Homo sapiens: one gene and its partner. The protein of the gene in region 1 purifies or fractionates together with the protein of each later gene. This does not show direct contact. Each region holds a gene or a part of one and is shown in the gene's direction. Other genes may lie near its edges.

Region 1 (3,600 bases):
AGGCTGGAGTGTAGTGGCGAGATTGGCTTACTGCAACCTCCACTTCCCAGGTTCAAGTGATTCTCCAGCCTCAGCCTCCCTAGTAGCTGGGATTACAGGCACCCACCACCATGCCCAGCTAATATTTTTTTTTTGTAGTTTTAGTAGAGACGGGGTTTCACCATGTTGGCCAGGCTGGTCTCGAACTCCTGACCTTGTGATCCGCCTGCCTCGGCCTCCCAAAGTGCTAGGATTACAGGCGTGAGCCACCGCGCCCAGCTGCCTTTTTAATTTTTTTTTAGCAGAGACGGGATTTCACCATGTTGGCCAGGCTGGTCTTGAACTCCTGACCTTAAGTGATCTGCCCTCCTCAGCCTCCCAAAGTGCTGGGATTACAGGCATGAGCCACCATGCCCAGCCAACCCCCATGTCAAAGAACCTACTATGTGCCAGGTGCTTCTGCTAATGTCTAGACCTCAACAACTCTAATGTGTAAATGTCACATTTCGCCTCTGATTATGAAATCTGGGCATGTTTCACAGAGCCAAGTTGCCTTTGCTTATATGTCAATGCCACTTGGGTGATTTCCCATAGCAGGACAACCCAGTGTTGTCCATGGCTCACCAATTTCACTTTTTTCCAGTCCATTATGAAGGAAGTGATTAGTGCAAAGCACAACATGTGGCTTCCTTCATTCAGTAAGAGCACCAGAGCCTGTCTGTTCCAAGTCACTGTCGGTATTTGACCCTTCATCACCTTCCCACCTCCTGGAGGACGCTCCTCCACGAAGTGCTGACACAACCTCCTGTAAACGCAGGATGCCAGGACGGGCTGAATGGCCCGCCATAGACTAGGCAGTGACCAGCACACCTCCCTTGGGCTGAAATAGTGGCGGCTATTTCACCAGGTGTAAATGGCTTTTCTCCCGTGTGGATGGATGGGCTTTTTAGGGTAAAGCCCTAAAAAGTGGCACGGGCTGAACCAGCAAGCTCAGTCTGAGTAAGAGATGGGCCGGAGAGAGGTCTGGTTCATTCATCTGTAATTTGTAATTTATCATAATTTTGGGTGAGGATTTACTTTTCCACAAGTATACGTTCTTTTTTTTTTTTTTTTTTTTTTTTTGAGATGGAGTCTCGCTCTGTCACCCAGGTTGGAGGGCAGTGGCAGGATCTCGGCTCACTGCAACCTCCGCCTACTGGGTACAAGTGATTCTCCCACCTCAGCCTCCTGAGTAGCTGGGATTACAGGCGCCCGCCACCACGACCGGCTAATTTTTGTATTTTTAGTAGAGACGGGGGTTTCACCATGTTGGCCAGGCTGGTCTCGAACTCCTGACCTCGTGATCCGTCCACCTCTGCCTCCCAAACTGCTGGGATTACAGGCGTGAGCCACCGCACCTGGCCTAGTATACATTCTTGTAGTGACTAATATCTAGTCTGGGCCAACCACTCCGAGGAGAGAGACAATTTTGGATTAGCCCACATTACACCAACAACGTGCGAGACAAAGAGAGACTTGAGGGGCTTGGTCGAGGAGGCCCAGCGCGTTAGAGGCGGGAGCCAGGTTGTAGAGGGGCTCAAAGTTAGAGGAGGCGGCCAGCTCCACCGGCTGCACCCGGCTGGGCGACCCGGCAACCTTCAGGGGGCGCTGTTTCCCCCATCCCTGTCCCTAACTGGCCGGCTCCCGCGGGCGCGCGGCGGGGAAGGCCAGAGGACCTGGGCGCGGGCGATGTGCCTCCTGAGCGTCCAAACCGGGGGTGAGGCGCGGTCACGCCCAGCGGGAACCGCAGGCGCCGAAGCCCGGGTACTGGGCCCAGAATCCCGCGGAATTTTGGATCCGAGGGAGGCGCTGGGGCGCGGGACCTCGGGCGTGGGGTCCCGGGCGCTGGATCGGCGCGGACGGGAGGCGGCGCTGGTCCCGCGGGCCAGCGGGTCTCGGGAGGGGGCGCCCGATCCCGCGTCTCCGGCGCCGCTTCCCGGGAAGTTTCAAGTTTGAAAGTCCTGGCGGAGGGTCTGCGGCTTCCGGGACCGGAGTGGCTGAGAGAAGGGCCCCAAGCGGCCGGAGCGGCGCCATGGAGGAGGGGGCGCCGCGGCAGGTGAACGGCGTGGGAGGGGCGCGCGGGCCCGGGGGGTGCGAGAAAGCCTCTGTCATCGCCCCGGAGCCCCGAACCGCGGCCGCTTCCCCCGATCCTCCCCTCACCCGCGCCCCTTCCCTGCCCCTGCCCTGGCCCCGGCCCCGCGACGCCCTCGCAGAGCAGACCTGATCTCCGGGTTCGGTGGTTCCTGGACCTTGCACAGTCTCCAAATCAGTCCGCGGCTGACCCGGAGACTGAACCCCAACCAGCCCGTGAGCGAGGACGGCTGAGTCCGCAGTGTGCGCCACCAGGGTGGTCCCCAGAGTGTCCTTAAGTCGGTTCTCCTCGGTGGGGCTCCAAGGCCGACGGGAATTAGCCGGGATAGAAAGGCGGGGCACAGGGGCCTGGGGGGGTTAGAATGTGCGCGCAGCGGGGGGCGCAGTCTGTGCGCGCTTGGCAGTGGCAGGAGTCCTTCCCGGAGCACAGGAGGCACGAGGGGAGCGTAGATGAGAGGGGAGCGGCCTCCCCCGCCCCAGGGCGGGAACCTTTGGGTACATAGCGGGTTCTAGAATGCGGAGGGGGCTGGGTTTCCTGCCAGAGCTGGCAGTAGGTGCGCGTGGGCCCGGAGGACCGAGGCCATGTCTATCTGCTCCTGAGGAGGGAGAGGTGGTGTCCTGTTCCGGAGCGAGTGGTTGGGAGGGGGGCATTTGCGGACAGGAGTGGGTCCCCGCAAAGAGCGGAAAGGAGGTGGTGTGTGTGTCCATGTTGGAGTTCCAACCCAGGGCAGACGGGACCATGGGGGTGTTGCGGGGTGCGTGTAGACTCCTTGAGCGCCCAAGCCAGTCGTTTAGGCCGCCTTCAGGGCTGGGGCTCGGTCTGCCCCCTCCCACCCCCTTCCTCTGGAGGTCCCTCCGCCTGTTCCAGACGTAGCTTGTACACATTTTCCGATTTCCTGCGGGGCTCCGCCCTGCAGCGGCAGCTGGGTGACTCAGGACCCCGGTGGCCGGGCCCCCAGCTCCATGGGACCTTTGTTTGCTCCGGTCTTTGGCTCTGGCCCTGTGGCCTAGGGCGGTCAGAGGATTTCCTGAGCCTCGCCCTTGCCCTCTGACAGCTGGGCCAGCAGGCCCCGCTGAGGTCTGGGGTGGGGGGGTCCCTGAGTCTGGGGTTGCGGCCCCTTCCACTGGGCTCAGGAGAAGATGGAACACAGAGAGGTAAGATGGGGTTCCTGCAACAGCCCGTGTTGCGGGGCATCATGGGTTACCCGGCCTGAGGTCACCTTTGGCACCGGTTGGTTTGAAATGCTGGCGGCTGGAAAGGAGGTGTTCCTGTTCCTGGCTCCAACCTGGGTGAAGCCGTGAGAGAGCCTTCTACTTCCTCCCGGGAGCTGAGCAGGGAGTGGGCACCCGGAGACCTCCCCAGTTCCTCTCTGTGCCTCTGCTTTGCTACCTGTGGCATTGGGACATCAGGGGAACAAGCCCTGGCTCCCAGGCCCCTGGCTGCCTTCTCATGTGGCTTCGTGTGAACCCCTATTCGGCGTAGCTTTTGTG
Region 2 (3,816 bases), on another chromosome or scaffold:
AATTAATTATTTATTTTTGACAGAAAGTCTCGCTTTGTAGCCCAGACTGGAGTGCAGTGGCGTGATCTCTGCTCACTGCAACCTCTGCCTCCCAGGTTCAAGCAATTATCCTGCCTCAGCCTCCAGAGTAGCTGGGATTACAGGTGTGCCCGGCTAATTTTTTGTATTTTTAGTAGAGATGGGGTTTCACCATGTTGGCCAGGCTGTTCTTGAACTCCCGACCTCCGGTAATCCGCCCACCTCGGCCTCCCAAAATGCTAGTTTTACAAGCGTAGGCCACAGTGCCCAGCCTAGATAATCTTTCAGAAAAAGAAGCAAATGGAATTCTCCCCAACTCACTGTGAATTTAGTATAGGCTTAAAACCAAACCAGACATAAATAGTACAAGGAGGCAAAAGTATGGACTAACTTCTTATGGACATATATGCAAAAACGCTAAATAAAATATTAGCAAATAATCCAGCAATGGATTAAACATGTATCACGACCAAGTTGGGGTTTTCCTAGGAAACTAAGATTATGTAATAAAAGAAAAAACTATTAAAGTAGTACAAACTATCAAAGGAAAAAACCTGTATGATCATTGCAACAGGTTCATTTGCGACATAATACAATTTTTTTCTTTTTTTTTTTTTAAGTCTTTTTGGCTGTAAGTTTATTCAATGCAAAATAATCCTCTCCAATTCTACTGAGGTGGCTGACGGTGTCCACGACCAAATTTGCCTCTAAACTGGAATTCGGTTGCTGACCCAGCCCCAGCCTCGGCTTTCTTGTCGGCACCAGGGGGCACAGCACTCCTTCTGTAGGTATCTCTGTCGGCTTCTCCTCTTGTGAGTCTTGCAGGTCGCTCACCCTCCAGACCTTTAGACCGAGGCCTGCCAGTCCCTGGACGGCTGCGGCGTAGGGTGGCAGGCACAATCTCCAGGGGCAGATGAAGGTAATCACGGAGATACTGGATATCCTCATTGGTAAGGTACCAGTAGACATGTCTCCAGGCAAACTGTTCCTTCACGTAGTAGCCTCGGGACTACATGACAGGAAGGTTGGGCACACACATTCTTTTTTTTTTGAGAGGAGTCTCACTCTGTCGCCCAGGCTGGAGTGCAGGGGCGCGATCTCGGCTCACTGCAACCTCCGCCCCCTGGGTTCAAGCAATTCTCCTGCCTTGGCCTCCCGACTAGCTGGGATTACAGGTGTCTGCCACCGCGCCTGGCTAATATTTTTGTATTTTTAGTAGACACGGGTTTCACCATCTTGGCCAGGCTGGTCTTGAACTCCTGACCTCGTGATCCGCCCGCCTCGGCCTCCCAAAGTGCTGGGATTACAGGCCTAAGCCACCGCGCCCGGCCGGGCACATTCTTGTCTGCCAACTCCAGGTGCTTAGGCATGTGGACATCCTTCTTGACCACCGTGACTTCCTCTTTAAAAAGGAGTTCATAAATGGCAATCCGGTTTTTCTTAGGCATCAGCATTCTGGGGAGGAGCAGCCGCTAAGGTGGCAGGGTGGCCCGGATGGGGGCCGATGGAACTCGAACTCCCCCAGAATTTCTTTAATATTTTATATATATATATATATATATATACATATATATATGTATATATATACACATATATATACATATATATATACGTATATATATATGTATATATATACATATATATATACGTATATATATATACGTATATATATATGTATATACATATATATATACATATATGTTGCTCGCTTATTCTTTTTGTCTGTTCCCTTATGTACCGGGAGTGCCAGGAGGACAGGGCTTTGTGTTTTCCTCACTGCTGTCTGGCTCATGCATAGCACAGTCCTTGGCACACGGTAAACACGCTGAGGAGAACTTTTGGGACTAGCGGACTCTGAGCATCATTCCGCTGGGCCCAGTGGGGCCTCTGAAGGGACCCGCCTTGCCCGGCTCCAGCCCAAGACCTGAGGCATGCGCACCGGCTGGCCGGCTACTTTCTTGACCGGCCAAGTGGCAGAGCGGCTGCGCGACCCAGTGCCGAGACGGACGCGAGCCGGAGATGGGGGAAGGGGAGGGGGTGGTGGTGGGGGACGGCGGCGCCTGCGCAGTGAAGGAATGTAGGCGGGGCCTCCACGACGCCTGCGCAGACGGCCGCAGCCCTGCTGGGCGCGAAGGGGCTGGCCAAGGGCGGGGCCCGCGAGGGAGGCCGGGCGGCCCGGCAAGCGGCGCTGCGGGGTAGGCTGCTTTCCTGAGGCCGGACTCAACGGGTCTCGGCTGAGCCACCGGGTGAGCTCACCGCCCAGCCCAAACCAGGAGATTGCGAGGGAGCGATGCGGTGCAGCGCGGTAAGAGCAGCAGCCGGGTTCCCGCAGTGTTCGCTGGCGGGTTGGTTTATCGCCTCAGCGCCGCCCGCGCTGCCGCGCCCGGGCGTCCCCGCAGACCCCGGCAGGCCCAGCGCCTGCGCCGTCTCTGCTCCTGGGCCCCTCCAGTGTGTCCCGCGCCTGCGCCTTTCCCTTCCCGCGCCGTCCTCGTTCTGGGCTTCGGGGCTTCTGGAACAACCCGCAGGCTTCGCCGCCGAGACCCACTGGCCTTCGTCCGTTGGTGTTGGGGTTCAGCTGGTTCTGGGACCCCGCTTGCGGCTTGACTGTGTGCAGACAGGCCGGGTGCGACCCTCGTGCTTGCCTTTCCGCCGCTCCGGGAGAGGCTGGGGCTGCCGCCCCATCGCCCGGGTCCCTTGCCTGGGGCGGGGACAGCGTTGTTCAGTGGCCCCGAGGGCGCAGAGCGGAGGAGCAGGGGCCACAGGCGGCGGACCCCGGGCCTGCTGCCGGTGCTGCTTCTGCTGTGGCCGGCGCCCGAGGCGGACGGAACGTCCTTTTTTCTTGAGACGTGGTTAATTGCATCAGGTTGGATGTGAATAATCCGGTACCTGTCTGAGGAAATTTTGCGTTTCCAGGAATTTGGTAATTGTATTACCTTAAGTAGTTAAGTCTAAGACATCATAGTCGCGGCACGTTGGGCAAGCTGCCCTGGAGATGACGAAAAGAAATCAGTTTCCAGTAGTTTTAGCCCATTTACAGAACACGCAAAAATTCTGTGATCATTCAAATGCGGGGAACCTTGATTTGTTGATATCCTTGATCATTTGTCCAAGTACCAGAAGGGCGAGGAAAAGATTCCCGTGAACAGCCCAGGTGATTTCAGGGAACAGTGTTTTCTTTTGTCAAAAGAGCCTCTTAAGCCATGATAATATTTCCCAAGCTTATAACAGATACAAGCCTTTAAAAAATGGCATTTGCTGTCACCCAGTAGGACACATCTTGAGATGAAATCAGAGCTGTAGGCTTTGTAGACAACAGCAGTCATTTCTGGTGGCTTCAGGGAGTGGAGGGGGACTGCAATTTTGCCAATGTAGGTGATACCAAAGGGACTATAGTAATTTTTTCTTCGTAATTAAAAACCAGGCCAGGCGCGGTGCCTCATGCCTGTAATCCCAGCACTTTGGGAGGCCGGGGCGGGCGGATCACCTGAAGTCAGGAGTTCAAGACCAGCCTGACCAACATGGTGAAATCCTGTCTCTACTAAAAATACAAAAAGCGCGCGCCTGTAATCCCAGCTACTCAGGAGGGTGAGGCAGGAGAATCGCTTGAACCCGGGAGGCGGAGGTTGCAGTGAGCCGAGTTCGCGCCACTGTACCCCAGCCTGGGCTACAGAGCGAGGCTCCGTCTCAAAAAAACAAAAACCAGATATAACAAGGCCGAGCTCCCTGGCTCACGCCTGTAATCACAGTAGTTTGGGAGGCCGAGGCGGGTGGATCACCTGAGGTTAGGAGTTCGATACC

Evidence for each region. The genes of interacting proteins can lie anywhere in the genome.
Region 2: the proteins of PKN3 (region 1) and SPECC1L purify together in Homo sapiens (affinity purification with mass spectrometry; 2 studies listed by BioGRID and IntAct, with this or other methods). This does not show direct contact.

The regions. Positions count from the first base shown.
Region 1 is NC_000009.12:128,700,866-128,704,465, forward strand, and holds the start of PKN3 (serine/threonine-protein kinase N3), read left to right. Parts: upstream 1-1,637; 5' UTR 1,638-2,050; coding exon 2,051-2,074; exon of another isoform or gene 2,075-2,559; coding exon of another isoform or gene 2,560-2,604; exon of another isoform or gene 2,605-3,249; coding exon of another isoform or gene 3,250-3,264; intron 3,265-3,600.
Region 2 is NC_000022.11:24,268,661-24,272,476, forward strand, and holds the start of SPECC1L (cytospin-A), read left to right. Parts: upstream 1-2,170; 5' UTR 2,171-2,323; intron 2,324-3,816. UniProt on the Homo sapiens protein: Involved in cytokinesis and spindle organization. May play a role in actin cytoskeleton organization and microtubule stabilization and hence required for proper cell adhesion and migration.